Regions from separate parts of the Homo sapiens genome. Here region 1 is linked to region 2. The links come from fine-mapping of genetic effects on gene expression. Tissue or cell type: subcutaneous fat. Region 2 holds a variant in brackets; the other region holds the start of a gene. All regions are shown on one strand. Distances are between the middles of the regions.

Region 1 (15,124 bases), 39 kb after region 2:
GAAGCCCTAAAGATGCAGACTGGGTGGCTGGAGCAGAGGGTAAGAGCCCGGGACTGAAAGTAAGAAAACCTAGATGCTGGTGCAAACTGCTGACTGGCAATAGCATCCCCCAGCCCTCGGGTTCCTTATCTGTAAATGGAGGCTCTATTCCTGCCCACTCTGCAGGACCCAGGGAGGTCAATCTGGAAATCATAAAGTACCATTTATACCAGAGGCTTTACATGAGCGGGGGCAGCCATCGTACCTCATGGGTGCCTAGACAAGTTTTGGATAAAATGCTTAATATAGATACGGTTACCTTTGCTGCTTTCTCCTTTCTGCAATGACTGGTGGCTGTTTTACTGTTACTATCTTATCAAACTTTCATTTAAACAAAGTGTCTTGGTGATATAATGCCTTAACAGAAGGACTGGATCTCTAATGCTGACGTGCGCTTGAGGGGAGCTGGTTTCAACTGCATGTTCACCAAAACCACAGGATCACTACATGGTCACACTTGCATATAAAGTTGCATTTACATTGGCAGCCTTAAAATCCTGTGCACAATAGACATAAATTTGTAAATAAACAACATAAACAAAACTAAATATGTAACAAAACAACACACAAAAAGAGAACATTTTTTAAAAGAATGAAAAACGAAAACTATCTGAGGGTGGCTCTGTGGCTTGTGGTGGGTGTAGTCTGCACTTAGTTGGAGAACTGGCTCTAATGACTTGGCCCTGCACAGAGCTGAGAAGGGCCCCAGCAATGATTCTCCAAGACTGTCAGGAGCAGTGTGTCTACAAGAACCCTTTCCCACTACTTGGGGGATTGAAGATACCTGTCAAAGCTGAAGGGACTGGTTTGGTCATTCAATAGGCAAGAAATCACTTAGGTGACCCCTATGGGGTCTTTTTTTCTCTGCCTGCTCCCCTGGTGCCAGGTTGCAGGCTGATCTTGCCCAGTTCCTGACTAACTAGACTGCAGGCTGGTGAATCATGGGACCCACCTTTGACAGCAGCCATCTGGCTATTGGCCTTGGGTGCCCGAAGGCTGATGCTCACCATCCATGGAGCTACAAGCTCCTGCTGTGAACCTATATGATTTGTGTCCAGTTGGTTGAGTGCTGCTCTGAGTTTTAGACGAAGGAGTCCACCGTGGGCCTCTACCCCATGAGGAAAAGGAAATCAGGAAATGTATGTGGGGAGTGTCTTAATGAGGGAATCCGTGCTTCAACCATGGCAGGCTGGATAAAGTCTTCCTATTCTCCTCAGATTTTCAGTACCTTTTTAGTTAAAATGCTGAAAATTAAAGTTTGAAAGAGACTAGAAACTGGCCTCATTCCATGTGTTAATCTGTTTGAATAATGTCATCTCATTTGACCAGAGAACCCTTACAGCTGCGATGGCCATTTATCTCACAACTTCTTTGGCTGTGTCCAGGTCCCCTGGCTGGCAATTTATGTTCATACTCACTCATGGGCCACCCCTCCCCATGAGGTCCTGGGCCCTGTGACTCAGGGGCCACATCTACCCGTGGGGTCCTGGGCACCTCTTTGCCAATCCCACTCACAGAACCCTTCTGTGAACTAGAGCCTTACATAATAAGAACTTTGTGCTTCTCAATATTTTTTTTAGACTGAAAGGAAATGTTCCCCCTTTCCCTGACTTTGGCTTCAGTTAGTTATTTCAAATGGCAAATGGCACAAGTTATTAAAATTCCAACATGGAAATTTGCTTAATAAACAGGAAAGGAGTTTTGAGGGCCCACCACTGAGCATGAATGTTAACCCTGTGGTTGCCGGCCCGTTGTTTAGGCAGTTTTCGGGCTGGCCTTGGGCAGGGTTCTCCCTCTGTAGTGGGCCTTCTTTGTCACTGTTCCTGGCTGCTGCTGTGAGCTGTTGTTGTATGTACCACATACTTTTCTAATATCAAACTTAAGAACACAAAATCAGGGTCATATGAAATGATCTCATTTATACATGATTTGTGTAATCATAGATCCACTTTTAGATGACATTTATTCCCTCATCAACTAAATACAGGGCGTTTGGTTCTATGAGGTAATTCAAAAAGAGAACAAAGAAATTAAGGAGCAAAAACATTAAAATCCAAGGGAGAAAAGAGAAATAAGGCACCAAATACATGTAAGATAGGAAAACACTCAGGGGAGCAGAAGATTTTTGGGCCAGGACCACACTTTCTTTTGAAAAAAAGAAAGAAAGAAAATGTGGTCCTGGCCCAAATGGAGAAGCAGGGAAAGCCCCTGGAGGAGGTAGCATCAGAGCTTGGTCTTGAAAGGTGGGTAAATGTGGCAGATGAAAGATGTGCACAAATCCTTTGACATCTTCCTCTTGAGAAATAGAATCTATACCCCTCCTCCTGAATGCCTGTAGGTTTTGTGAACTGCTTTGATCAATATAATACAATGGCATTGATTTGTGTCAGTTACCAGGCCAAGACCTAAAAATACTGGCAGCTTCCTCTTCTTGTCTTTTGGAGTATCTGATCTTGGAATACTCTCTCTGGGATCCTAAGCCATCATGCTGGAGAGGCCACATGTAGGCACTTCAGTTGACAATCTCAGCTGAGTCAAGCCTTCCAGCTATCCGTCCCAAGGTGCCACACAGGTGAGTGGAGCTGTCTGGGACTCTCAAGTCCAGCCCATCTGCCAGCTGAGTATCATTGATGATCTCTGTCAATACCACATGGAGCAGAAGAACCGCTCACTTGAGCCCTTCTTAAATTCCTGATCTCCAGGATTGTGATCATAATAAAATGGTGGTTGTTCTCTAAGCCTTTAAATCTGGGATCAGTTTTGAAGCAGTGATTGGTAACTGGAACGGTAGGGTTTTGAGTAGCAGAGATAAGGGCCCAAAGGCATCCCAGAGACTAGGAATGTTGTAGGTAAAGCCATGAACCTGTGAAGATGCAGAGAATTGATGCGTGAATTTTGAGTTTTGGGGAGATGAGGAAAACCATAGGAAGCATAAGAAAAAAATCACTGTTGTACATGTTTAAGGGCTAAATAGAGAGTCTGAAGGTCTCTGTGTATGTTATGTATTCTTACATATGTATAGCTAATGAAGTGCCACTAAGAGTCTATATTTTAAATTTTTATTATGAAAATGTATAAACATGTACAGAGAATAGCATAATAATCCCCTGTTGTCTCAGTCTGTTTGGGCTGCTATAACAAAATACCATGACCAGGTGACTTATAAACAACAGAAATGGATTTCCCACAATTATGGAGACTGGAAGTCCAAGATGGAGGCACCAGCAGATTTGGTGTCTGGTGGGGGCTCACTTCCTGGCTCATAGATTCACAGATGGCACCTTCTCACTGTGCTCTCACATGTCGGAAGGAAAGAGGGAGTTCACTAGAGGACGCTTTTTAAAGGATACTAATCCCATTCATGCAGGCTCTGCCCTCATGACCCTATCACCTCCTAAAGACCCCACCTCTAATACCATTACTTTGGGGGTTAGGATTTAAACAGATGAAATTTGGGAGGACAGAAACATTCAGACCATAGCTCCCAAACATATAATAACTGGGAGTCAAGGACAGCGTAAGTGGTTTCCTGGCAAAAAAATGATCTCTGTTTGCCAATCTTTTTCCTGAACTATTTTAAGTGAAATCCCATACATTGAATCACTTTACCCATAAAAATTCAGTATATAGTTCTAATAGACAGGGCTTTAAAATTGCAAATACAATACCATTTTCACACCTAAAATATTTAGCAATGTTAATTAAAATGAAGCCCTCTCGGCTGTCGAATCTCTCTTACTGCTGGCTCCTTGGAGGCAGAGTCAAGATGGACCTGGCCTTGCTGTGGTTGTTCTCTCTGAGGCCTCTCATAATCAAAGGCAGCTCCGTCTTAGACCCTGCCCCCTTTCCCCTGTGTGCATTCAGCTCACGGCACGCTCGCAGAGTGATGGCACTTCCTACAGTCCTCTATCTGCTATTGCCAGGTATCTGTGAATTGGAAGCCACAGAGGGAGGACCACTGAGGCCCCTGAGTCACGTGGAGGAAGGGAACACCATGTCTGGACTGTGTTTGAGAAGGTCAGTCTGACAATGTGTGACAATGGTATGTGGAGTGGATTGGAATCGTCTACAATGAGAGCTCCTGGCCAAAGGAAGGGAGGATCAGAGAGGTGTAAGAGCACTGGGTGGGGAGCTCAGAGGCCAGAGGGAGTTTGGTCTGAAAATAATTTCTAACATTTGTTGAGTGCTTACTGTACACCAGGCTCTGTGCATGTGATCTCTTACCCCAGTGTGATAGATAATATTGCCCCCATATTACCTCTGGCCTAGAGAGGACAGGTGATCTAATTACACAGTTTGTGCATAATGCAGAAGGAACTGGAACCCAAAGCCCACGTCCTTAGCTACTGTCACATGGCAGAAACGAAGGTCCTGGGGTTCATTTGGTATGGTATATCAAGGGAGAGAAACTGCATTATTAAACTGAGTGAGGCCAGGTAGAGACTTTAGGAAGCAGGTGCGTTTTGGTGGAGAGCTGAATGAGCTGAGTTACTCAAAGTGCAGTCTGAGGACTACAGCATCCTCTAGGAGCCAATAAAAACAAAATGGAGACAGCTGGGCCCCACCCAAGACCTACGTCATTCCAGGGGATTTGACTCAGAAATCTGCACTAACAAGCTCCTTGGGATTTTCAGACTAAGTTTGAGAAACACTGGAATGAAAAATCAGACCAGACTTAGCAGCGGGAGAAAGGAGGGTCTTGTACATTAAAGGGGTGAAAAATTTAAGCGACTAGTAAGAAAAGGACCTTTAATAGTGTCTCACATGTAGCTAGCATTTTATAAGTGCTACAGACTGAATTTTTGTGTCTCCCCTAAATTCATACATTAAATCCTAATTCCTGAAGTGAGGTGTTAGGAGGTGGGGCCTTTGGGAGATGATCAGGTACTGAGGATGGATCCCTCATGAGTGGGATTTGTGACCTCATAAAAGAGCCCCAGAGAGCTCCCTCACCCCTTCTACCGTATGAGGACACAGCAAGAAGGTGCCATCTAGGAAGCAGGAAGCAGGGCCTGACCAGACACCAAATCTGCTGGGGCCTTAGTCTTGAATTTCCAGCCTCCATAACTGTGCAAAATCCATTTCTGTTGCTTATAAGCTACCCAGCTTATGGGATTTTGTTTAGCAGCCCAAATGGACTAAGACAGTAAGTAAATACCGTTGAACAAATAGACAGATGAAAAGGAACTTAGATATCAGCATAAGAACTGACATAGTGTCTCCAGGCTGAACACATGAGTTTAGCGGCCCCTCTGAAGGCAGAGTGAGACGCTCCCTGCTACAGAACACTCTCTGGTCATATCCCGATTAAGTGAAGATAATTTATTTTTTTTTAGATAGTGTCTCGCTTTGTCACCCAGGCTGGAGTGCAGTGGCGCAATCTCGGCTCACTGCAACCTCCGCCTCCTGGATTCAAGTGATTCTCCTGCCTCAGCCTCCCAAGTAGCTGGAACTACAGGCACGCACCACCACGCCTGGCTAATTTTTGCATTTTTGTAGAGAGGGAGTTTCACCATGTTGGTCAGGCTGGTCTCAAACTCCTGACCTCAAGTGATCTGCCCTCCTCAGCCTCCCAAAGTGCTGGGATTACAGGCGTGAGCCACCATGATCCCCCTTAAGTGAAGAGAATTTGAATGTCATATTAGAAGTAGATATTGGTAGCAATTTGGGGTAAGGGGGATGATCTCCACAGGATAAATAAGATTACAGCCATTATGTTTAATGTATGTTCTAAACCAATCCAAACAGAATATTGGCTTTTTATGTGCTTTGATTTTTCTTTCTAATGATAAATTTCTTGTCCTCAGGCAAAAGTAAATATATGCCTGGTTACTTTTAAAACTCCTATCCCCTATTCTACAGTTTCCTCAAGGGTTTAGAAGCACTTCCCCAAGATAGCTAGATGTGTAACATTATCCTTCTGATTCTCTCTGACACCCTGGGCAGTATCATGATCTAACTCAGACCCACTTTGCACTTTTTTCTTTGGTTGGCCACCATCTGTCTTTACTAGCTCAATGTTAGAAGACTTCTTTCTCCTTCCTGCTGGAGAAATTCAACTGCATTGCATGGAGAGCTAATTATATGGAGAGACAGTAAGTGCTTACCACTGGAGGGTATAAAAATACTGGCCGGTGTGGTGGCTCACACCTGTAATCCTAACACTTTGGGAGGCCGATGCGGGTGAATCATTTGAGTTCAGGAGTTCAAGACCAGCCTGGCCAACATGGTAAAATCCCTTCTCTACTAAAAATACAAAATTAGCTGGGCCTCGTGGCACATGCCTTGTAATCCCAGCTACTCAGGAGGCTGAGGCAGGAGAATCGCTTGAACCCCGGAGTTGGAGGTTGCAGTGACTGAGATCCCATCACTGCACTCCAGCCTGGGCAACAAGAGTGAAACTCCGTCTCAGGGAGGGGAAAATAAGTGAGAACCTTGGTGAAGGAAAGAGGTAATCAGCTCAGTTCAGGGCAGATCTGAGATGGGAAGACAGGAAAGGTAATCTCACATCTCCATCCTTTTGTAGCCCAGGCCTGGAGAGAATAATTAGGTGACCCGCTCAGAGTCCGTTGGGATAAAGTTGTTCTAGTTTTTGTTCACTACGCCTCCTTTCACGTGTCCTCTACAGTTGAACAGGCCAGTTACTGGGATGCAGTTCTGCGTTTCCCTTGGGTCTCACCTTAACATCGCTCGCTGAAGTGTGCCCAGATTACAGAGCGGGCAAAGGGAAGCAGTGGTTTTGCTCACAGCTGCAGGGCACCAGGTTCCTGGTTTCTCAAAGGCTTTTCTATTGGAGAAGTTTGGGTGAGACGATTTCCCGGACTGCAGCTCTGAACCCAGACTGTGGAATCTTTCAAACTATCTCAAAAACAGCCCCGCCTAAGGCATCCTTAAGAGCAGCTCTGAACTAAGGAAATTCCAAAGCCCACTTTACAAACCAGGCAGAAGCAAGGCCCCCAAGCAGGGAGGGAGGGAGATAGGGAAGAAAGGGGTGAGGAGTAAGGGGAACAGTGGCGCGGCTGGGGCGGGCGGAGGAAGTGGGGGAGCCAAGGAGACACCCCAGCGCTGGGATCCGGCAAGTCCTCCCTCTGAGTGGCCAGGGGGCCTCGTCCCTTCTCCCGATGCCTTCTGCCCTTCCTTGGGTCTCCGGAACCCAGCTTGTCCTAACCGCTTTCGCTGCGGGCAGCGCTGGCCACGCGGCCCCCGCCGCCGGCGGTTCTCCGTGGCCAAGCATCCTTGGCCTTGGAGCCCAGGGGCTGCGTTCCCCTTGGGGCCGGGGCGGGAGAGAGGACCTCGGTGGTACTCGCCCGTGCGCTGGGCGCAGCCGCTTGGCCCTCAGCCCTCTGGCGCGGCGCCCACCCGCTGGGTCCCGCCCCGGCAGCGACGCAGGGATAACCCGCGGCCGCGCCTGCCCGCTCGCACCCCTCTCCCGCGCCCGGTTCTCCCTCGCAGCACCTCGAAGTGCGCCCCTCGCCCTCCTGCTCGCGCCCCGCCGCCATGGCTGCCTCCCCCGCGCGGCCTGCTGTCCTGGCCCTGACCGGGCTGGCGCTGCTCCTGCTCCTGTGCTGGGGCCCAGGTGAGCGGGGCGATGCCAGGCTGATTGATAGCGGCACCAGGGGTTGGCCCCATGTGGCGCTTCCATGGTGCCCGGGGAGAGCGATCGGTGATGGGGTGGCGGCGTAGGGACCCATCCTTAGCCTAGGCAGGGCCAAGGGGTGGTAGAGGACCGGGTCTGGGGTTTTGCACTCGCACAAGTGCGAAGTGGTGCCCTTGTGAGGGTGGAGAGAGTACCGGGGTCAAGGGGAGGGTCTCAGATCTCCCGGGCAACCTTGGGCAAGGAGGGCCAGGCGTCCGAAGGGTGGGCAAGTAGTGTTTCGTGGCTTAACGTAAGGGGCAAAAGGGTTGTGGGGGCTTTACGCAGCTGGTAACCCAGAGGAGGCAAATGGCACCATCACCGCCATTCCCTTCCAGGCAGTCGCTTAGCAACCAAGTTGACTTGCGCTTCCCAGCTGGGTCAAGTTGCAATTTGCAAAGCTGGGCACAGGCCTCACACCCCAGAGAGGGGAAAGGCTCTTAAAGGAGTAATGCTTAATCTTTCCTGCTTCGTGGAGCTCCCAGCGAATCGGTTGAAAACTCTGAAATTCTCTGCTCGCTCTCTGTAAAACGTGCATTCACACGCACACCCAGAATGATGGGTGCTCCGATATCTGATCGCTGGGCTCCACAGGCCCCACTTTAGGAACCATAATCTGAAGCCGTGGTTTGTCCTGAGTTACCACCTTCACTGGGTAGGAGGAACATTTATGGTTCACAAGTGGCCTCAAGGACACATGACTGCCTTTGAAGCTTACAACTAGGGGAGGCAGGGATTGTTACCTCAGAGTTACTGGTGTATGAAGTGACTTGCCCAAGAGCCTGAGACTGGCGCTGTCCCACTGCAAAGCAGCTGGGCACTGCCTAATGTAAAAGGGAGGCTCACTCGGTTGCTCAGTTTCTGTATTTTGCTCATTCGAAACAGGTATGGAAACTGAACTCGAGGTGAGAAGAGGCAGGGGACATTCAGTAGGAGCCCTGGGATGGAGCCCCGGGGTTGCTAAAACAGCAGGAGGCGTGGTGAGGTCTGTTCAGGTGGGGAGGATTATTGTTCCACCTTAGAATCACAGGCGAAGCTAATCAGTCATTTCCCGTTGTATGGTTTACCTGCCTCCCACTCTTTGTTCTTGCCACTTTAAGAAGCACATCTGGGCCGGCCTTGGTGGTTCATACCTGTAATCCCAGCACTTTGGGAGGCCGGGGGGGGGGGGGGGGCAGATCACCTGAGGTCGGGGGTTCGAGACCAGCCTGACCAACATGGAGAAACCCCGTCTCTACTAAAAATGCCAGACGTGATGGCACGTTCCTGTAATCCCAGCTACTCGGGAGGCTGAGGCAGGAGAATTGCTTGAATCTGGGAGGAGGAGATTGCGGCGAGCTGAGATCGTGCCATTGCACTCCAGCCTGGGTAACAAGAGTGAAACTCCGTCGCAAAATAAAAAAAGAAATAAATAAAAGAAGAAGAAGAAAAAAGCACATCTGAATAAGTCAAGTGAGCACTGGCTACAAGCCATTTATTTTCAGGACTTGTATTTTATTTAGTTTATACCAATAACTCAGTTAAAATATCATCACCGAGCTGGGATGTGAAAGTTCTTATACAGTGAAAATATTTTTTTTTTTTTTGAGATGGAGTTTTGCTCTTGTTGCCCAGGCTGGAGTGTAATGGCGTGACCTTGGCTCACTGCAACCTCCGCCTCCCAGGTTCAAGCGATTCTCCTACCTCAGCCTCCCGAGTAGCTGGAATTACAGGCATGTGTCACCACGCCCAGCTAAGGTTTTTGTTTTTGTTTTGTATTTTTAGTAGAGATGGGGTTTCTCCATGTTGGTCAGGCTGGTCTCAAACTGCCGACCTCAGGTGATCCACCAATCTTGGCCTCCCAAAGTGCTGGGATTACAAACATGAACCACCATGCCCAGCCTACAGTGAAAATCTTTATGTAATCCCAAAGGTGACTCTTTATGCCACCTCCAAACTTTTTTTTTTTTTTTGAGACAGGGTCTCACTTTGTTGCCTAGGCAGGAGTGCAGTGGTGTGATCATAGCTCACTGCAGCCTTGATCTCCCGGACTCAAGCAATCCTCCCACCTCAGCCTCCCGAGTAGCTGGGACTACAGGTGTGTTGACTCCACGCCTGGCAATTTTTTTTTTTTCTTTTAATTTTTAGTAGAGATGAGTCTCACTATGTAGCCCAGGCTGGTCTCGAACTCCTGGGCTCAAGTGATGCTTCTGCCTCGGCTTCCCAAAGTGCTAGGATTATAGGCTTGAACCACCACGCCCTTCCTCACTCACAAACATTTAATAAAGAAAATGACCGTGACCCCTTCTTGATCAATTTATTAATATTAAGCACCTTCAAAGGAGCATTTTGCAGCTCTGAATTTGCTGGGAGAGCTAATGCTAGGCAACTGGATTGGATAAATTAAGGAGTGCTTATTATTGCAGCCTTGAATGAACAACTGATGATATTGGGTGAAAAGTCCTTAATACAGAAAAAAATCACAGCTATTCTATTGTTCCTTATCCTTTTCCTCAAACAAATTTAGTGTAGTGTCCAGTTATATGTACTGATATGGAGTTCAGTGTATAGTACCTGGCACAGCAGCAACATTCATAATTCATAATTTGGGACTTATTTGTGCTTTTCCATCTATAGCTAAGGTTTGGCGAGGCTCTCATTTCTGGAGTAATAGTGACATACATTTGCTGCAAGAAATTGCAGCCTCATCGCAAATGCCTACACGCAGTGTCTATTTCAACATCAGACCACATTTCATTCATTAATTGTTAAGCACTTTCACAGAAGGCAAACAGATGGAGGGGCCATACTTAATTCTGTATGTACTACCCTGTGAGCTGTTAGAGACTGACAGATGTTAAGACATTAATGAATGCTATTATTAGTGCCAAGGAACATATCTGTCTCCCTTGGCAAATATTTTCATAGATTTCTTCATTGAATTTAAGTTTGGAAGGGAAGTAGAGCGTTAAACAGTAGTCCCACCCCCATCTAATTAGAAAATCCCCTCTACAGTAGCCTGGTCAAGTGCTCATCTATGTTTATTTATGCTCAGACGCCTCCAGCAACTCTTAATCTCAAACCCCCCAAGGCCATTTGTCCCATCTTGGGTGGCTGTCTATCTGGGCGTTAGAAACCTTACTTCATGCCCTAACCTATGGCCCAGTGGCCCCTCAAAGCATTGGCTCTCCTCCCACAAGTTTCCTTCCTCCCTTCCTTCCTTCCTTCCTTCTTTTTCTTTCTTCCTTTCTCTTTCTTTCTTTCTTTCTTTTCTTTCTTTCTTTCTTTCTTTTTTCTTTCTTTCTTTCTCTTTCTTCTTTCTTTTTTATTTTCTTTTCTTTCTTCTTTCCTTCTTTCTTTTCTTTCTTTCTTCTTTCTCTTTCCTTTTTCTTTCTTTCTTTTTCTCTTTCTTTCTTTCCTTCCTTCCTTCCTTCTTTCTTTCTCTCTCTCTTTCTTTCTTTTTTTTTTTTCTGAGATAGAGTCTCACTCTGTCACGCAGAATGGAGTGCAGTGACGCTACCTTGGTTCACTGCAACTTCTGTCTCCCAGGTTCAAGCGATTCTCCTGCCTCAGCCTCCTGAGTAGCTGGGACTACAGGCATGCACCACCACACTAGGCTAATTTTTTGTATTTTTAGTAGGGACGGGGTTTCACCAAGTTGACCAGGCTGGTCTCAAACTCCTGATCTCAGGCTATGCGCCTGCCTTGGCCTCCCAAAGTGCTGGGGTTACAGGTGTGAGCCACCACACCCAGCTCCACAAGTTTTATTTCTCTAGGTTAAACACCTAAATTCCTTTAATTTCTTCTCATATAACACATGTTTGGGCGCTAGTCCTCTCTGGACACTCTCCTTTGACCACAACTCCGGTTTTTCTATGACCTTCTTCAAGTGAGATGATGTGAACTGAACTAAATAGTAGAGGGGAGGTCTGTTCAGAGCTGTGATGGAACAGCGACAGGACAGTTACTTTCTTTTTTTAAGTATCCTTTATTAAACAGCCTAAGATTGCAATTGCTTTTTAAACAACTACATCACTATAGACCGACTTGAGCACAGACAACAAAAACCACTGCAGCTCTCCCACAGGCTGCTATGCACTACGCCGATATCTTAGCTGGCCACCCAGCAGACTCCCAGCTCTCATAGGGAAGGTGTGAGGGAAACCACCACCTCTCCTCCCTGGCCCTTCAGTGTGGTCCCTAGAGATCTTATGAAGCCATTTCCATGCCATTAAACCTCAAAAAATTGGGAGGCCATGTAATTTATCATCCAAGCTGAAACACTTTTGAGAGCAAAAGGAGGCACTATCATTAATTTACAAGGACAAGAGGTATATACCAGGGCTGTTCCTGGACAACCAGAAAGTGTGGCCACCCTACCCGTGAATTAGAAGGGAGGCACTTAGCAGGAAATAGACTTAATAAGTTCTAGCAGGTTCCCCGTCCCATCCCAGAGGGCAGGCCAGCAGGCTCCCTGGATGGCCCAATGACTCTGAAGGCAGCCAGGTAGCACTTTAATCCAAATGCTACAGGAGGCTAGTAGGTTAGGTGGCTGCTTACGGACCATGAGTGTGCCAAGTGACTTGGGCTGAGAGGCATTCAAATTCAAAATTTGTAGACACTGGGTATGCTAATAAAATGCAGCCTCAGGTGAGGCAGCCAGCTTGTGACTCTTGTTTATGGATATATTCTTCGCCCCAACTCCACAGTAAATTCTTTGTGCAGAGGTTCTCTTTTAAAACATTTATTTTTTCCCCCAGCTTTATTGATGTATAATTCACAAACAAAGCAGGCATTCTTAATTTTATTTGGGTCACAGACACTTTTAAGAGTCTGGCAAAAGCTATGGTTCCTATTCCCAGAAAACTGTGCCTTGGCAGATGCAAACGCAATTTTACATGCCTTTCTAGACCCCCTGGAGCCTGTCCATGGAAGGAGAGGCTAAGAACCCTGCTGAGAAAGTGGTCACCATTACCTCCATCCTGGGGCCTGACTCCAGTTCCTTACACCCGAAGTTGCTCTACTCACTACTTACGATGTCATGCAACAGTTAAGGGTCAGAGGCTCCTATAGGTCTGCAAGCCAGTTCGCTGGGTGGAGGCGTGTGTTCTATCAGGCCAGACAAGGTATTTTCTATTAAAAATGATTGAGCTGATCAGAAACACTTTTAAAAGTGAATACAAATAACAGCAAGTGGTACAAATCATACTTGATTTTAGGGTGATCTGGGCAAGCTACAAAACTGGGCTGCACTTTTAGAGAGCAAAGGCAAGTTCCCCAGTGTGTGGGAGCCTGACTCCCATTTCTGCCTGCCTCTGTCTTCACATGGGTGACCTCCGTGGATCCTCTCTTCTTCTTATAAAAACACCAGTCACTGGATTTCTGTCCATCTAAATCCCGTATGATAACATCTTGAGACCCTCTCAGTGATGGGTAAGGCTGTAAAAAAAAAAAAAAAAAAAAAAAAAAAAAAGAAAGAAAGAAAAGAAAAGAAAATAAAAAAAAAATAAAAATCTTGAGATCCTTAATGGATTATATCTGAAAAGACCCCATTTCCAAATAAGCTCACATTCAGGGGTTTCTGGTGGATAGGGGTTTCAGGAGGACACTATTCACTATTCAACGTATTACACCATGAAGTGAAAATTTGCAGGAAGATGCGCTTGACAGATGGCTGCGCCTCGTAGTAAGACACAGGGCTAAAAGAACAGCATCACTCTGACTAGCTCAAATAGTAATACCCTTGGTCGGCTGTGGTCATTATCACCAGTATTAGCCATGGGCAGCCTGAATTGTTTGTCCTGCAGGACAGGGAATACAGCAAGTGTTAAATACTGTGATGTTACCAAGTTGCCAAATCAAGGCAGGGGCCCGCAGTTCTTTTCTCCCACTCTGATTTTTGCCTTTGATAAATTGAAGGGAGCAGTATAACTCTGATATGGATTTCAATTTTCATTCCTTTAGGTGGCATAAGTGGAAATAAACTCAAGCTGATGCTTCAAAAACGAGAAGGTAAATATACCCCAAATGGATAAGGGATGCATTCTTAACTGGATGGAAATGAAATGGCAATATGGATTGTGCTCACTGGAGTCTTGTATTTGGAAAATCAAAAGTGTTTACTCCTTAAAAGGTTAGCAGATATGAAGGGCTTATTCTGTTGGTATGTGGTGTGGTATCTTATTAGATAAATATTATTGCCAGTAAATGTCTGAAGGTTATTTTTCTGAAACCTGTCAGTGTGGACTCAAAAATAAAAGAAACAGTAGTACAGTGTTAATTGCATGCTATTTATTTTAGGACCATGGAGCACTTTAGAGACTATCTTTGGAACACATAATCCTCAGTTGGTGGGGCAGGCGTGGAACAGCAGTGTTGCGGTAGTCCGTGTATCCAAAGAGCTCTTGGGGAAGGGTTTCAAACAGGAAAGCCTTTCTTGTTATTAGCCTCTGTTTTGAATAATGCATCTAAGATAAATGTGACAGCAACAAAATGTCATAGAAATTGAACAGTCTGGGGGTCACAACACACAGGTTCTGGACCTGCTGTAATCAGATCAGGTGGATCAATTGTGGGGTCTCGTGAATGTCATTTTCCCTCTCCCAACTTTCATCTCTATCTGTAAAATTAAGAATCCCTTAGAAATGAAAAAGTGTGACCACACTTCTGATGTGACCATTTAGTCAGTTATTCTTTCCCTCCTAGTTTGTGGGGGATTCTAGCAGGCTGAACTTCCTCCCTGAAGTGGGGTCCTCAGTCATTCTTCCCACACTCCCCAGTTGCTGCTCAGGGGCCCTCCCACAGGTGGCTGGAGAACAGGCTTGGGGCGGTCCCAGCATCTTTTCCTGGGGTTCCAGCCACCCAAGAAGCCCTGGCCCACCCCCAATCTCTGAGGCGGCTCAGAGGGCCCCCTCCCTGTGCTGTGTGGTGGCCAGAGCCTTACCTCACGGATGCCCAGGGATCAACAACGCCCTCACAGAGCCAGTTTGTCATAGGTGAGCAAGCTGCTGAGGCAGTCACAACTCCTTGGTGTGCATCCCGCAGCCTTGACTCAGTTCAAATCAAGAAACACATATTGAGCAACTACTGTGTACAAAACAGTGTTACAATCCCTCAAGGGATTGTAAACAAACAAACAAAAACCCCTGCTGGTATTTGTCCATACGACCAACGAATGCACCAGGCCTGCATTTCCATGATCCTGTGCATTTTTCCTAACGTCATCGAGAGGGACTGTCCACCCACTTTTATAGATACGGGGACAGAGGCTGAAAACGTGACAGCAGGAGAAAAACGCCTAATGGCACAGTGGCTTCCTCGAGCACATCCTGCGGAAGTGGTTCCATTTCAACAATTGAGACTGTGATGGAAAGACGTTAGCAGCAGCAGTGTGAGGGTGCGGGTCAGTATCCTGCATCAATGGTCAGACTGTGAGGCGCAGAGAGGCACTGGCTTAAGGGGATTCTGTGTCCC
Region 2 (15,124 bases):
TAAAATTCTCTATGCATTCCCCTTTTGTTTTTGCAATGTTCTTTCCAGGAACCTATTTAAATATTGACAAGACGCTGGACACAGTGGCTCACGCCTGTAATCCCAGCACTTTGGGAGACTGAGGTGGACGGATCATGAGGTCAGGAGATCGAGGCCATCCTGGCTAACATGGTGAAACCCTGTCTCTACTAAAAATACAAAAAATTAGCTGGGCATGGTGGCGGGCGCCTGTAGTCCCAGCTACTCAGGAGGCTGAGGCAGAAGAATGGCGTGAATCCGGGAGGCGGAGCTTGCAGTGAGCCGAGATCATGCCACTGCACTCCAGCCCGGGTGACAAAGCAAGACTCTGTCTCAAAAAAAAAAAAAAAAAAAAAATTGGCAAGACACCCCAAAAGACATATGCCAAGGAGTATTCACAGCAACATTATTTGTGATGGCCCCAAATGTCCACCAATCGGAGACTGGTGGAGTTCTGTGCAGCTTTCAAAACAAAGTAGGAAGATCTCTAGATCCTACTATGCTGGGTTCTCCAGGATATACTGTCAATTGAAAGAAGCAAGTAGAGAAAAGTAAATACAGGCCGGGTGCAGTGGCTCATGCCTGTAATCCCAGCATTTTGGGAGGCCGAGGCAGGTGGATCCCTTGAGGTCAGGCATTCAAGACCAGCCTGGCCAACATGGCAAAACCCTGTCTCTACTAAAAATACAAAAATTAGACAAGCGTAGTGACACATGCCTGTAATTCCAGCTACTCCAGAGGCTGAGGCAGGAAAATAGCTTAAGCCTGGGGGCAGAAGGTACAGTGAGCTGAGATTGCACCACTACACCCCTCTATCCTGGGCAAAAAAGAATGAATGAGACTCTATCTCAAAAAAAGAAAAAAGAAAATATAGAAAAGTAAATATAATACGCTGCCATTTGTCTAAGAAAGAGGGGATATGAATATATATATATATATAAATAAAACAGAAGGATTGATTATATAATGAATAGCATCCTTATCTTTAAAAGGAAGGAGAAGGTGGAGAGAGCAAGGGTGAAGCTAGATTTCTCTCAATCTACCTTCTACTTCCATGTGATAGAAGGTATGTGAATAAAAAAATTAAAGAAGTAAAAATTCTATAATCCTAGTTTTGTTTTTTTCTAAAAATATAAAGAAACTTATTTCCCACATCCTTTTAAAACCCAATGTTAATGGGTACCTAGTAATTCATTACAAAGATGTCCCATGTGTTACTTAACAAACCTAACTGTGTTTTGGAAGTATCTCAGCTTAACAGCAAAACATTCCGTGGGGAGTCAGAAATCCCAGGCTCTGAGCCAGCTTCCATTATGCAGAACCATAAGATATTACTGCTGTTGGATTCTTTTTGCCCTGCCGAAACAGCAATGCGTAAACTCCAACCTTGTGGCTATTACTCCTGGGACCCTGGGCCAGTGACTTCTGTCGCCTCTCCTGAAAACTCTAGAGGAGTCCTGCCAGGCTCAGGGATGGTTGTGAGGGTCAAAAGAAATGCTGGGCAGCAGGTTTTAGGTGACATATTGTTAGAATCGAGAGGAGGCGGGTCTGCCTGGTGCAATGAGAAGGTATGAGTGTGAATCCTTTGATAACTCCTTGCAGAACAATTCTGAAAATAAGGCATAGGTTCATTCCCAAACTGCACCAGGGCTGCAAGCACATTCTAAATTATACCAGTTATAAAGACAGAACTCTTGCAGTGCTAATGCAATTAAAGGGCATTTGCATGGAATGAGATTTTAGGTTTTTTGTTTTTTTGTTTTTTGTTTTTTTGCAGCACTGTTTAAAGAGGGTCCTTTGAGTTGTATTCTTAATTTGTGTAGTTTTTTTCCCTTTAAGATGATCTGTGCACTTCTCACATTTGAGATGCACTGGCTGGAAAATATTGCAGCAGCCCAGGCAGGGCTTGATTTCAGCCGACGTTTCTCAGGGCCTCCACACTAGGCATGCCTGGGAAATTGCCTTTTGGGACCTCTGCCAGGCCCCCTGGGAAATGGGAGCAGCCATCCTCCAGTGTAGATTTAGTTGTTCAGTGACCCAGGGTGTCCAAAATAAGCAGAGAGAAAGAGCCCTCACTTCTCTTCCAAGCAAGGCAGTGTCGTTTGCACTTGGCTCTGTAATTAGGAGCTACTGGTGAGATGCTTTTTGGAAGTGAGCGAGCCCTTTCAATTTGGCCATTTGTGGTCCTGAATTACAGCTGACTGGAAATTAAAGCTGTAAGCGCAGCCTCAAACCACAGGGAATGGGGCTGAGGGCCTCCCAGCCACCTGGCACAGCTCTGGAATGCTTACAGCACTTGATAACGCTTGCTAGGGGCAAGACAAGGGCAATAAAATGTGAATTAGATGGAGATGAACATGCCATCCGGGGCAGGAAGAAATCCTCAAGCAGATGTGTGTGGAAATTAATGGTACGGTGATAACAAATGTTGAAGCACTGCACAGTGACCATACTGGGGAATCGGCCCCCTGACAACTGTTTGTTTTACAAAGGGCGGGGCCTCCTGTGGATGGAAGGAAAACGTAAGAGGTAATAGCTTTTGAATTTGGTGCAGTTGATGCATATTAAGGAGATCTTCCAGTCTGTTTCAGGAATGCATTTCAATCTGTGCTGCCAAAATCTTTGTTGGCCAGGGTCAATATTCAACTTATTAAAAGAAAAGTCTCATTCTCTTTCCCCTTTTTTCCATTTGCTCCTTCTCCAGATAAAGAACGAGGGTAACTAATGCAGAGAAAAAATAACCACCCTCAACCAGGAGGCCACGCTGCAGAAGGATCCATCTCTCTGAGTTGTCTCTTTACCCTAGGCTGGGTCTGGATGTTCAGAGCAGAGTTTTAGCAGGCATGCTTTGGAGCTCAAGAACAGGGGTCCCCAACCCCCAGGCTACAGACTGGTACCAATCTGTGGCCTGTTAGGAACCGGGCTGCACAGCAAGAGGTGAGTGGCAGGTGAGTGAGTGAGCATTACTGCCTGAGCCATGCCTCCTGTCAGATCAGCCTGGCATTAGTTCTCGAAGGAGCATGAACCCTATTGTGAACTGTACATATGAGGGATTTAGGTTGCATGCTCCTTATGAGAATCTGTACCTGATGATCTGAAGTGGAACAGTTTCATCCCAAAACCACCCTTCCCCACCCCTATACTCCCCCTAATCCCTGTCCGTGGAAAAATTATCTTCCATGAAACTGGTCTCTGGTGCCAAAAAGGATGAGGAACGCTGCTCAAGAACATAAAAGAAGTACAGACCCTAATCCTGGATGCTCGGGTAGGCTGGTGATTGGCTTTTCAAAAGCTTTATTTCTATTAAAGGAGAGAAAATAAAATGAGAAAGATACCACTTCGATGGCTGTAACAAAATTCTAATATTTAAAAGTGATACCAAAATATAGATTGTGTAAAGTAGGGAGCAGATTTCATGGTGGGAAATACAGGGCAGTGAAGTAGAAATAATTGCTGGGTTTGACATTTGAAGACCTAGGTTTGGTTCCTAGCTGGGCCACATTTTAGCGGTCACTATGGTCTTTGAGTACTTCCAGGCTCATCTTATATTTTTCCTGCTCAACACCCAAATTAGCTATTTACCAAGGAATCCTGGTTGCTTTTGATAGAGAGTGATACTTAGATCCGGGTGAAAGAAACCAAGATCTGGGGCCTACATATGCTCATTGCTATGAGGGCCTCAGTGTGTCTCCCTTTCAGTGGAGAGAACTAAGGAATGTATCTTTGGAATCATGGATTTATACTGATATCTTCAATTCAAAGACAATTCAACACAAATACATTGCCGAGTTCTTCCTCAATATCCTCCACACCATATTTGTATCTCTCTTCTTCCTTACTCATTGCTTTATTCTAGGACATAACTCAAAATATTCCAGAATCACAGTATCGATACCAGTACTGACAACAAAACTCCTAAGATCAAGATTTCTTTGCAGGTCTTTTTACCCTTAGAATAAGTCCAACTAAATGTGTATGCTTGGAGCTCAGCTTTTAAGTTACTTAATTCTTTTTTTCTATGTACTTATGTAACCAGTTTGGTAGATAGTATATCATTGTGTTGTGTTTATCCAAGTTTAGAGTGCTTCTAAAAAACTCTTTGATTTAATTTTATTTTTGAATATGTAAAACACATAATTCAAAAGTCAAAACTGGCCAGGCACAGTGGCTCACGCCTGTAATCTCAGCATTTCAGGAGGCCATGGCAGGAAGATTGCTTGAGCTCAGGGGTTTGAGACCAGCCCTGGCAACATGGCACAACCCCATCTCTACAAAAAATACAAAAATTAGCCTGGCATGGTGGTGCATACCTGTAGTCCCAGCTACTCAGGAGGCTGAGGTGTGACGAATGGATTGCTTGAGCCCAGGAGACTGAGGCTGCAGTGAGCTGTGAGTGTACCACTGCACTCCAGCCTGGGAGACAGAGCAAGAACTTGTCTCAAAAGAAAAAACAAAGTCAAAACTACATAAAAAGTGATAGTCATTCCTGTCCTTTACCTCTTACACTCTGAGCCTATCTCACCCCCCAAATTTCACTGGTTTATGATTTAATCTTCCTGCCATCACGGCTAGGCTAGAATCACGGTGTTGGCAGTGCTATCTTCCTTCCAGGTGATGATCCGTTTCCTCGCCTTTTCCAGCTTCTAGAGGCCACCTGCATTCCTTGGCTGTGGCCCCTTCCTCCACCTTCAGAGCCAGCAAAGTCAGGCTGAGTCCTCTTCATGCTGCATTTCGCTGGCTCCCTCTCTTCTGCCTCCCTTTTCCACTTATAAAGACCCTTGCAACCACATTGGGCCCACCTGCCCAAGACAGTCAGCTGATTAGCTGTCTTAATTCCATCTGCAACTTTGATAGCCCTTTGGCATGTAACCTAATATATTCACAGGTTCTAGAGATTAGGATGTGGACATCTTTGGGGCCATTATTCTGCCTGCCGTGGATTTCTGCTATCACATTGGCTAACTACTATTGGTTTGTTTCTTGCAACCACATCAGAGGAGCCAGGAAACCTCCCAGAGGAAGTTTGAGTGTTTTCCCTACACCTGGGAACTGGTGTCAGGAAGGTTTTTGCTCACTCTTAATATCTCTGATGAAGCCTGAAATCCTGCAGGACTTAGCAATTGGTCTTGGAAGAAAAATGGCACCATTGTCAGGGCTGGAAGATGCTTTGTGCCTGAGCCAGCATCTGAGCAGCTGCAAGCATCCTTGTTGCACTCTCTTCCCCTTGAGGAATGAGGACAACGCAGCACCCACAGGTGTCCTCATCCGAAGCTGGGCTATTCTTTTACCCAGCTCAGCTCACTCAAGTTGCAAATCTGTGAATGCAAACTTGGAACGGAATGCCCTAAAACCAGCTTCAGCTAGCCCAAAGTTGGGGAGTAGAAGCGGGGAGGGGGGAGAATTATGACTTAAATTATGATTTTAAATGAACATGAGGTTGCTCTTTCCTTTCCAAAATTTGAAACCTGCCTTGCATTCCTGGCTACAATAAATAAGACTTTTGACATTTTTCTACAAGGTAAAAGGTAGACGTAAGAAGTGTGTGAGGAGATGTGTTCTCCCTCCTGCCCTCCGCCTACACTAGCAGCTCAAGGAGTTCCCTGGTTTCGATTGCCTCATTCCCCACCCTGGGCTGTTCTGTCCCTCAGGCAGGGCCTTGGGGCCTGTGAAATCAGGGGCCCCAGGAGAATCTAACAGGTGGCTTGGCTGAGGGTGTGGAGTCAAGAGGGACCTATGGTGAAGGTTGGCTCATGGAACCCTAATTTAGCTCATAAGGGTCCTTCACTAAGCTCTTCTGACCTGACACTCTATTTCTAGATGTATCCTTCCCTTTCTAGATGCGTCCTTCCCTTTCTAGATGTATCCTTCCCTTTCCTTATTCTCTGTCTTTTTCTGGGATGGGGGCTGAGTTTGGGATGTTAGTACAGACAGTGTGATGGGAGAGATCTTTCTTACTTTTCCAATTATGTTCTCTGTCTCTCTCCCTCTCTGTCTCTGTCTGTCTCTCTCTGTCTCTCCTCTGTCTCTGTCTTTCTCCTTCTCTCTCTCCCCTTCTATGTCTTCATCTCTTTCTCCTCTCTGTCTCTCTCTTTCCCCATTTGCTATCCCTCTCTGCCTCTTTCTCTGTCTTTCTTTCTCTCTGCTTCTCTCTCTCTTCCTTTCTTGTTTTCTTTCTTTCTCAACCTCCTCTGGCTACAAATGAGATCTATACCAGATTTTAAATCCTGCCTTTAACTTTGTGATAAACCACTATTCACTGCTTTGAATTTCAGAAATTAGAAATATTGAGCATATGTCCCCGTAGGCACCAGGGAAAAGCATTTTCTTGTTCACAGAGGTGTCACCTCTTTTTCCTTGCAAAATTCTGCCCTGGAGCAGATCTCATGTGTGGGCCTGAATAAAAATGTGACTAGAAAGTAATAATATGGTCGACTTTTCTTTTTTTTTTTTCCTGATAAGTGAGCGTAGTACCCTTCAGTTAGGTGCTCTGAGAGCCTAAGCATTTATTCCAGTCCACTCCTTTCGGGACATTGAGTTTAGACTCTGCCTCATATTTTGGGGGCAATTCCCAGTACTAACAAATATTTGTCTTTGGGAGTGTTTTTATTTTTGGAACCAACCAAATGCTCTTTAGAGCCCTGGTGAAGGTGGGTGATCTGGCAGGACGATGGCACATTTGGTCAAAAAGACGAAGATGTGACTCTAGTGCTTCTCAGAAGAGGCTACACCCTGCAGGTGGAGGGAGGATGCATAGGAAGATGTGCAATATTATACCTTTATATTTGAAAAAAATGCCTCTTGGAAACTTAAAATAACATTAAAAGGAGGCATAAGAATTTTAGGTATGTGAAAAGGGAACTATCGTTTTTAAATGTTTGAGAAACTGCTTTAAGATAACAAAGGAAATATTCCTGTGTAGTCAGAAAAAGAGCTATGGACACAAGTTTCTGCAAGGGCTCAAGTACATTGCAGCAGCAGGTGGTGGTGAAGCTGCCCCACTCTGAAGCCTGGTATCAGACGCACAGGGTCAGGCAAGCAGGAAATACCAGGACTGCCCACGTCCCCTCACACAAGGTCTCAGCAGGCCTCAGTCCCACTGGGAATTTTAATGGAGCTTGTTAGCTAACCAGGGAAGCCCTGGAGGAGGCCAACCTGCGATGGAGAAGAATCTGGAAACCTTCTAATCTTTGGAAGAACTGAAGCCATTCATAATGTGTGTCTTTAGGAGAGGAGGCCCGTGGGATATTGGCCAGCTGCCTTCAAATATTTGACGGGTTGATGTGAAAAAAAGCTTTGACTTATTCTGTGTATCTCATGGGGGAATACATGAAAAAGAAAGAATGTCCTTTCTTTTTCTTTTCCTTTAACCTGTTTTATTTCAAAAAGGATCAACAGCAACTTACTTACAAAGATTCATATGACCCAACAAGACAAAATGAAATCCCAGCATCTAGATAATAAAATCAAAGTAAAGAGAAAAGAAAGGTTGGAAAAAGACATGAAATAGAAAGGCGATTAGGACACAGAAGGATGTGGTTAAGTGGGTTATAGGTGGGGCTCTAATGTTTTATGATAGTAGAACTAAGTCAACGAATTAAAGAGGGTTGGGCTTGGGGATAAAACTAGGAGAAATTTCCAAATTCTCATTGTCCAGCCATGGGAGAGGTCACCCTGGGTGTGGAAAGGTCCTCAGCATTGCAAGATGACCTGACTTGGCCTCGAATTATGACTATCAGCAACTGGGAGGGGAATCCCATCCTGGAAGGAAGACAGGCTGGGCAGAATGAACTCCCAAGTTCCACAAAAATCGTTGGTTTAGGAATCAGTCTCATTACTGTGTACATTGTGATGGGTTCACAGCCACAGTCAACTTACCATACATGGGTCATCTGAGTGTTGTTGAGGCAGAAAAGATGTTGTATTCCTCAAAGGACCTCCCCTCAATTCCTTTCTGAAACCCATAATCCCCAAGGCAAGTACTTTAATTCCCTGAAGAGAGATAAGGATGGAATGCAAGACCTAAGGACTCACAACACATTTTTAAAAGTTACACTAAGTTGGAGGTGACTGACACAGAGACCTTCCAAAGAGCAGAGGCCATGGGAAATGGAA[A/G]AGGCATGTGGCTGCTGGGCCCCGAAGGAGCATCCTTCAGAGCTGCCCCAATCTGATCTCCCATGCCACCAGGATACTTCTCGTACCTGGTCATGGGGACCCTGTTTTTACATGAGAAAATATGGTTTTCACAGTATGGAGATTCCCCAAAGAACTAAAAATAGAACTACCCTTCAACCCAGCAACCCCACTACTAGGTATCTGCCCAAAGGAAAAGAAATCATCATATCAAAAAGACACCTGCAGTCATACATTATCACAGTGGTAGCCACAACAGCAAACCATGGAACCAATCTAAGTGTCCGACAATGGATGATCGCATAAAGAAAATGTGGTATAGGCCATGCGCGGTGGCTCACGCCTGTAATCCCAGCACTTTGGGAGGCCAAGGTGGGCGGATCAACTGAGGTCAGGAGTTCAAGACCAGCCTGGCCAACATAGTGAAACCCCGTCTCTACTAAAAATACAAAAATTAGCTGGGTGTGGTGGCACATGCCTGTGGTCCCAGCTACTCGGGGGGCTGAGACAGGAGAATCGCTTGAACCCAGGAGACAGAGGTTGCAGTGAGCTGAGACCTTACCATTGCACTCTAGCCTGGGCGACAGAGCAAGATTCCATCTCACAAAAAAAAAAAAAAAAAAAGAAAAAGAAAATGTGGTATATATACACCATGGAATAACTTTGTAACCATAAAAAGAATGAAATCATGTCTTTTGCAACAACATGGATGGAGCCGAAGGCCATTACCCTAAGTGAAATAACTCAGAGGCAGAAAATCAAATACTGCATGTTCTCACTTTTAAGTGGGAACTAAACAATGGTATACGTGGATACACAGAGTGGAATAATAGGCACTGGAGACTCCAAAAGTGGGAAGGGTCAGGGTTGTGAGAGTTAAAAAATTACCTACCGAGTACAGTGTTCGCTCTTTGGGTGATGAGTACACTAGAAGTTCAAACCTCAGCATCACGCAATATATTCGTGTAACAAAACTGCACTTGTACTCCTGAATCTTATTAAAATAAAAGTAAATAAATAAACATTTTTTTAAAAAGAAAATATGTTTTCAGTGTTTCAGCAACCAAGGTGTATGCCCCATGGGTCACTGGATGTGACTAGCGTTTCTTTATTTAGGGTACTACCCAGGAAGGCTGAACATGGCCACCTTCAACGTCTGAATCTCTCCAACAACACAGTGAAAGGTTTTTTCCTTGTCTGTCCTGGTCGAAAGAGGAGGCATGGCTCTCCTTAAAGGTGTGACTTGGACCTTGGTTTCCACTATCTTTTGCGCCTCCATCATCACTTGGCCTCTAGGCTTGCCACACAAGAGGATAGAAGGCGTGGCACAGTATGGCCACACCTCTGCTCACACCTCTGTGACCTATTTCCTGCCATAAAAGTTACTATCTCACTAGCTGGCTCCAGCCTTCTTGGAGAACCAACTCTCCTGGTTAACTGCTAAGGGAAGGTGAGGTACAGAGGGCATGGGTGTTGGTGGGAGACCAGGCAGCCACAGAGGTGGCCCCAGTGCTCTGGCTGGAGAAAATGAGAGAAGTTTTGCCTTGCTTCTGAAAGGGAGGAAATAGTGAAAGGAGTTGGCCTGATCTGGTGAACCTGGGGCTTTTCAGGGCAGGGTGAGGGTGCATGATGGGGGAGAATTGCCTGGTGGAGCTTCCAAAGGGGTTTGAGGACATGTACATCTCAGGTTCTATGGAAACTTGCTTGTCTGCATTGGTGTGATATAAGCAATCCTGTTTCCTCCAAATCTTCAGCAGGGTTTATTACATACAAAATTACCACCATCCTGCCAGGTTCCAAGTTGTAAGCAACAGAAACCTATTCTGGCTAGTTGAGGAGCAAATGCATTTGGTAAAGGGTATTAGCTGGATCGAAGAACTCCTGGGGACCAGAGAACTGGGCTGGAGACTTTATGGTAAACGGTCATGCCCAATTCACCCCAGAATGGGCCCGGTGGAGCCCACACTGTGGTCATTTCTAGCATAGATGCTGCAGTATGCACCACCATCTCCTTGGAGGCAGGCCTCCAAGGCCACCTCTGTGGCTGCCTGGTCTCCCACCAACACCCATGCCCTCCGTACCTCACCTCCCCTTAGGGTTAACCAGCCGAGTTACTTCTCCAAGACATCCGGAGCCAGCTGATGAGATAACCTTTATGGCAGGATATAGGCCACCTTGCCTAAGGTCCTGCCACTGCTCTCTCTGAAACCTGTGTGTAGCTGCCACCACCTTCACCAGTGTCACTACCCCTGATTCAGGGTCTCTGGTGATTTCATCTCTCTGTTTCCCTGGGAGACTTGCCTGAGCCCTGGAGGCAAGAGAGGCTAGCACAGCAAACCAGCTCCACAGAGACTCCCAGGTGTTCAAGGTCTCAAATCTAGGAAGGCTGGATTAAAATGCATGATAAATATCTGCTCTGTGACTCTATGTGGAAATCAAAGAAGAAGCTGTATTTTTTTTTCTTTTTAGTCTGAGAAGAACAGAGATTTGGGACCTGACAGTATATGAACAGGAGAAGGAGTAAATCCTGACACACCCCACCACTCCAATTTTCCCAGCAAAAATCTTGGGCAGGGTGTGGACATCCACAGATTGTAGAATGAGGTGTTAAGCATACTCTGACCTACATCTCATGGAATAGATGGGTCCAGGTGCTGTAATCTGATCAACCCCCTTCCAGTAAGAAAATGCCTTAAAACTTCCCTTTGAAAATAAGAAAACTACCTAGATAGAAGAAATTATCCCAGCCATAGGGAACTAGGCAGCATATTCTGTTGCCTCTTATCAGAGTCTGGCCCTAACTGGCTGTGTGTCTGCAGGCAAGCCATTTAGCCTCTCTGGGCTTCTGTTCAATGAAGGGCTCTGGGGGATTTCTATCTATTATTTTGCACTCAGCATTCACAGTTTAGTCCATTCACTTCAGGGAAACTTTTTTCCTGTACTTTTTTGAGATATAATTTATACAAAGTGCACAATGTAGTGTACAGCTTGATGACTTTTTAGGCGCACACACACACACACACACACACACACACACACACACCCCTCATGTAACCACAACCCTGATCAAGATATGAAACATTTCCCACATCCAGAATGTGTCTTTGCGTTTCTTCCAGCCAATACCCCACACTCCAGGTTTAACCACGGTTCCGACCTCTATCACCATGGCTTCGTTTTGCCTGTTCTTGAACTTCATATAAAATAGAATCATACAGTGTACTTTTGAACGTCTGGTTTCTTTCATATATAACATGATACTTTGAGATCCATCCGTGTCATTTTAGGTAGATTTTAAAAACTGCAATTGAAAATTCTGGAATAGAAAATTATTCCTGGCTTTTAAAAATAGACATGCCATGTACAGGAAGGATGGGGAGATTTTCTAGGTCAGCAGAGGGTGCAGCGTTGTCTCCTCTGAGACCGGAGATCTTGATTCAAGCTGCAGAATGTGATTCTGTGGCTGATCCAAAGATTTTATGAACAGTGAGTAAGGCAAGGAGGAAGGGGAGAGGGGAAAGAGCGGGAAGGGAAGGGTGGGTGAGGAAGAAGGCAGGGGTGCTGGGGAGCTGCGGGAGCTTGCGCTTCCTTTTCTGGCATCTACTGTTCTCTCAGATCAAGTACAGTTGTGTAAACAGATCTGTGCCTGGAATGTAAGGAAGGAGGGAGGGGAGCCAAGTAAGTCAGAGACTGCTGGAAAACAGGAAGAACTTGCCTGAAATAGACTAGCTCGTGCCTTCAGGATGGGACTCCTGGAGAAGCCATCAGGCCTGTGAATCAGGCACAGCACAGTAGAAGCACTACCTGGCATTGTGCTGTCCAGGCCTGGGGTGGCACTGTCCCTGTCCGGGCCCCTGTACTAAGTAGTCGAGTATTAATGGGCTGGCAGAGCAACTAGCCAAGCAGAGGCCCCCGTGGCTTAGGGGCTCATCTTTACTCAGCGAGATGAGTGTGGGACTGGCGGGGACTGTCCCTTCCAGTCCCCACTCGTCTTCCCCTCCCACTCCACCCCCAGCCAGCTGCTCTCAGCATCAGGGTGTTGAAAACTTGCATCACACTACATGGAACGTTGTAATTGTGAAATAGTTCATGAGAGATGGAAGGTGGACTTTTACCTTTGAATCTTTGTTCATAAACAAATGGTGCTGTACCCAGTGGGAATTCCACACCATCTCCCAATGCATCCCATCAGTAACAGGTTTTTGCCTCTTTACCTGCGTTTCTCTTAACTGTGATTATTATTTTTTTGAGATAGGGTCTCACTCTGTCACCCAGGCTACAGTGCAATGGCATGATCTCAGCTCACTGTAACCTCTGCCTCCTGGGCTCAAGCAATACTCCTGCCTGAGCCTCCTAAGTAGCTAGGATGACAGGTATGTGCCAGCACGCCCCACTAATTTTTGTATTTTTTTTTGTAGAGACAGGGTTTCACCATGTTGTCCAGGGTGGTCTGAAACTCCTGGGCTCAAGCAATCCACCCGCCTCAGTCTCCCAAAGTGCTGGGATTACAGGCGTGAGTCACCATGCTTGGCCTAATTATTTTAATGAAGTATTAAAAAATTATTTTTTGCTCTGACGAAAGCTGATCTTGTATTCTCCCCCATTCTCTGTTCACTTTATTATTTCCTTACAGGCCTTAAGCAACTGGACACTTCTGTTTACATACTAACAAAGTCCATGGATTCAGGTACACTGAGGAATCAGTTGCTGCTGTTTCCATTAAGACTTTTGGCCTTGAAAAAATATCTTTTAAAAAAATAATTTAGACTTTTTTTTTTTTTTTTGAGACAGAGTCTCGCTCTGTCACCCTGGCTGGAGTGCAGTGGCCCAATCTCGGCTGGCTCACCACAACCTCTGCCTCTAGGTTCAAGCGATTCTCCTGCCCCAGCCTCCAGAGTAGCTGGGATTTCAGGCATCAGCCACCACGCCCACCTAATTTTTTGTGTGTATTTTAGTAGAGACGGGGTTTCACCATGTTGTCCAGGCTGGTCTCAAATTCCTGACCTCAAGTGATCTGCCCATCTCAGCCTCCCAAAGTGCTGGGATTACAGGCGTGAGTCACCACACTCGGCCGTAATTTAGACTTTTATTTTAGATTCAGGGGGCATATATGCAGGTTTGTTATATGAGTATACATGTGTGATGCTTAGACTTGGGGTACAATTGATCCCACCATCCAGGTACTGAGCATAGTACCCAATAGTTTTTCAACACTTGCTGCCTCAGTTTCTTCCCCAGTTTCTATTGTTGCCATTGTTTTGTCCATGAGTACCCAAAGTTTAGCTCCCACTTATGAGTGAGAACATGTGGTGTTTGGTTTTCTGTTCCTGTGTTAATTCACTGAGGATAATGGCTTCCAGCTGCATCCATGTCGCTGCAAAGGACACGTAAAATCTTATCTTTAAAAAAAAATGTCAGCTGGGCACGGTGGCTCATGCCTGTAATCCCAGCACTTTGGGAGGCAGAGGGGGGGTGGATCACCTGAGGTCAGGAGTTCGAGACCAGCCTGGCCAACATGCTGAAACCCCATCTCTACTAAAAATACAAAAAAATTAGCCAGGCATTGTGGCGGGCGCCTATAATCCCAGCTACTAAGGAGGCTGAGGCAGGAGAATTGCTTGAGCCCCGGAGGTGGAGGTTACAGTAAGCTGAGAACATGGGCCACTACACTCCAGCCTGGGCGTCAAGAGTGAAACTCCATCTCAAAGAAAAAAAAAAAGCAACATCAAATCCAGGGCCAGTGAAAAATTGTTTCCAAATTGGCCATGCTCCAATGTGGATTTTTAAAAGTGGAATGAACAACAATGGGACACAAGTATACATCTATTAGAATGGCGAAAATCCCAGAAGCTGACAATGGCAATTTCTGGTGAGGATATGGAGCAACAGGAAGTCTCATTCACTGCTGGTGGGAAAGAGAAATGGTACAGCCACTTTGGAAGACAGTCTGACAGTTTCTACAAAGCTAAGCATACTCTCACTATATAATGCAGCAATTGCACTCCAAAGTATTTACCCGACTGATGTGAAAACTTATATCTGCACAACAACTTGCACTCAAATGTTTATAGCAGCTTTATCGATGATTGCCAAAACATGGAAGTAACTGAGATGTCCTTTAACAGGTGAATGAATAAGCAATCTATGGTATATCCATACAATGGAATACTATTTAACAATTAAAAAGGAATGGACCCTCAGTCCAAACAACAATGTGGATGAATCTTGAATGCATATTGCTAAGTGAAAGGAGGCAGCATGAATAGACTGCATACTGTATGATTTCATTTTATGATATTCTAGTAAGGGAAGAGTTACAGAGATAGAAAACAGATTTATGTTCATCAGGGGATTGGGGAAGAAGAGGGGAGGAATAGGGAAAGCACCCAGAATTGTTTTACAGCCGTGAAATTATTTCATAAGGCACTGTAGTTGTGGAGACATGACACTATGAATTTATCAGTTGGGAGATTGGTAATCCCAGGATGGAATCCAGCCTGTGGCAAAACAATCTAACTGTATTACAATGTGGCATAACCTCACTGAAGGAGGCAGGAGAAAAGGTGATGATCTGAGTAACTTGGAAATGAGTGGAGCCTGCAGGACTAAAGACAAAAGAAACAATACAGAAGTACTATACTCCAGCTGATAAAGTTGTTTCTTATGTGCTTTGGGTTAACAATTTTGATACTTCTCTACATGTATACTTGGATTAAGACTATTAGTAAAAGATGATGGATGGTGGGAGGCAGGTTTCTCTCTATTGGAGTAAATGGTTACAGAAAGCCAAGGGAATGCCTAGAATGAACCATGTGGTTCTCTGTGTGAGACATTAGTCTAGACTCATGTTTAGCTTAACGTAGATACAGATCAATAATTATGGAAATAATTCTGGATATGTGTGCACACACAGGTAGACCCACCCTCATATATTTCCAAACTCTGTCTGCTGAAAGGGCCTAGAATCAATGAACCC

What was found. PIP is the estimated chance that this variant, and not a neighbour inherited with it, causes the effect.
Region 1: it holds the start of ECRG4, and the variant in region 2 is fine-mapped to the expression of ECRG4 in subcutaneous fat (GTEx, PIP 0.98).

Annotation. Positions count from the first base shown.
Region 1 is chr2:106,058,229-106,073,352 of GRCh38, forward strand. It overlaps ECRG4 (ECRG4 augurin precursor), which reads left to right and starts at 7,460. Exons shown (of 4, transcript NM_032411.3): 1 at 7,460-7,615; 2 at 13,616-13,663. The coding sequence starts at 7,537.
Region 2 is chr2:106,018,905-106,034,028 of GRCh38, forward strand. No RefSeq gene overlaps it. Among named protein-coding and RNA genes, the nearest start is that of ECRG4, 39 kb to the right of the region's middle. The variant A/G (reference allele first, on the strand shown) is at 8,131.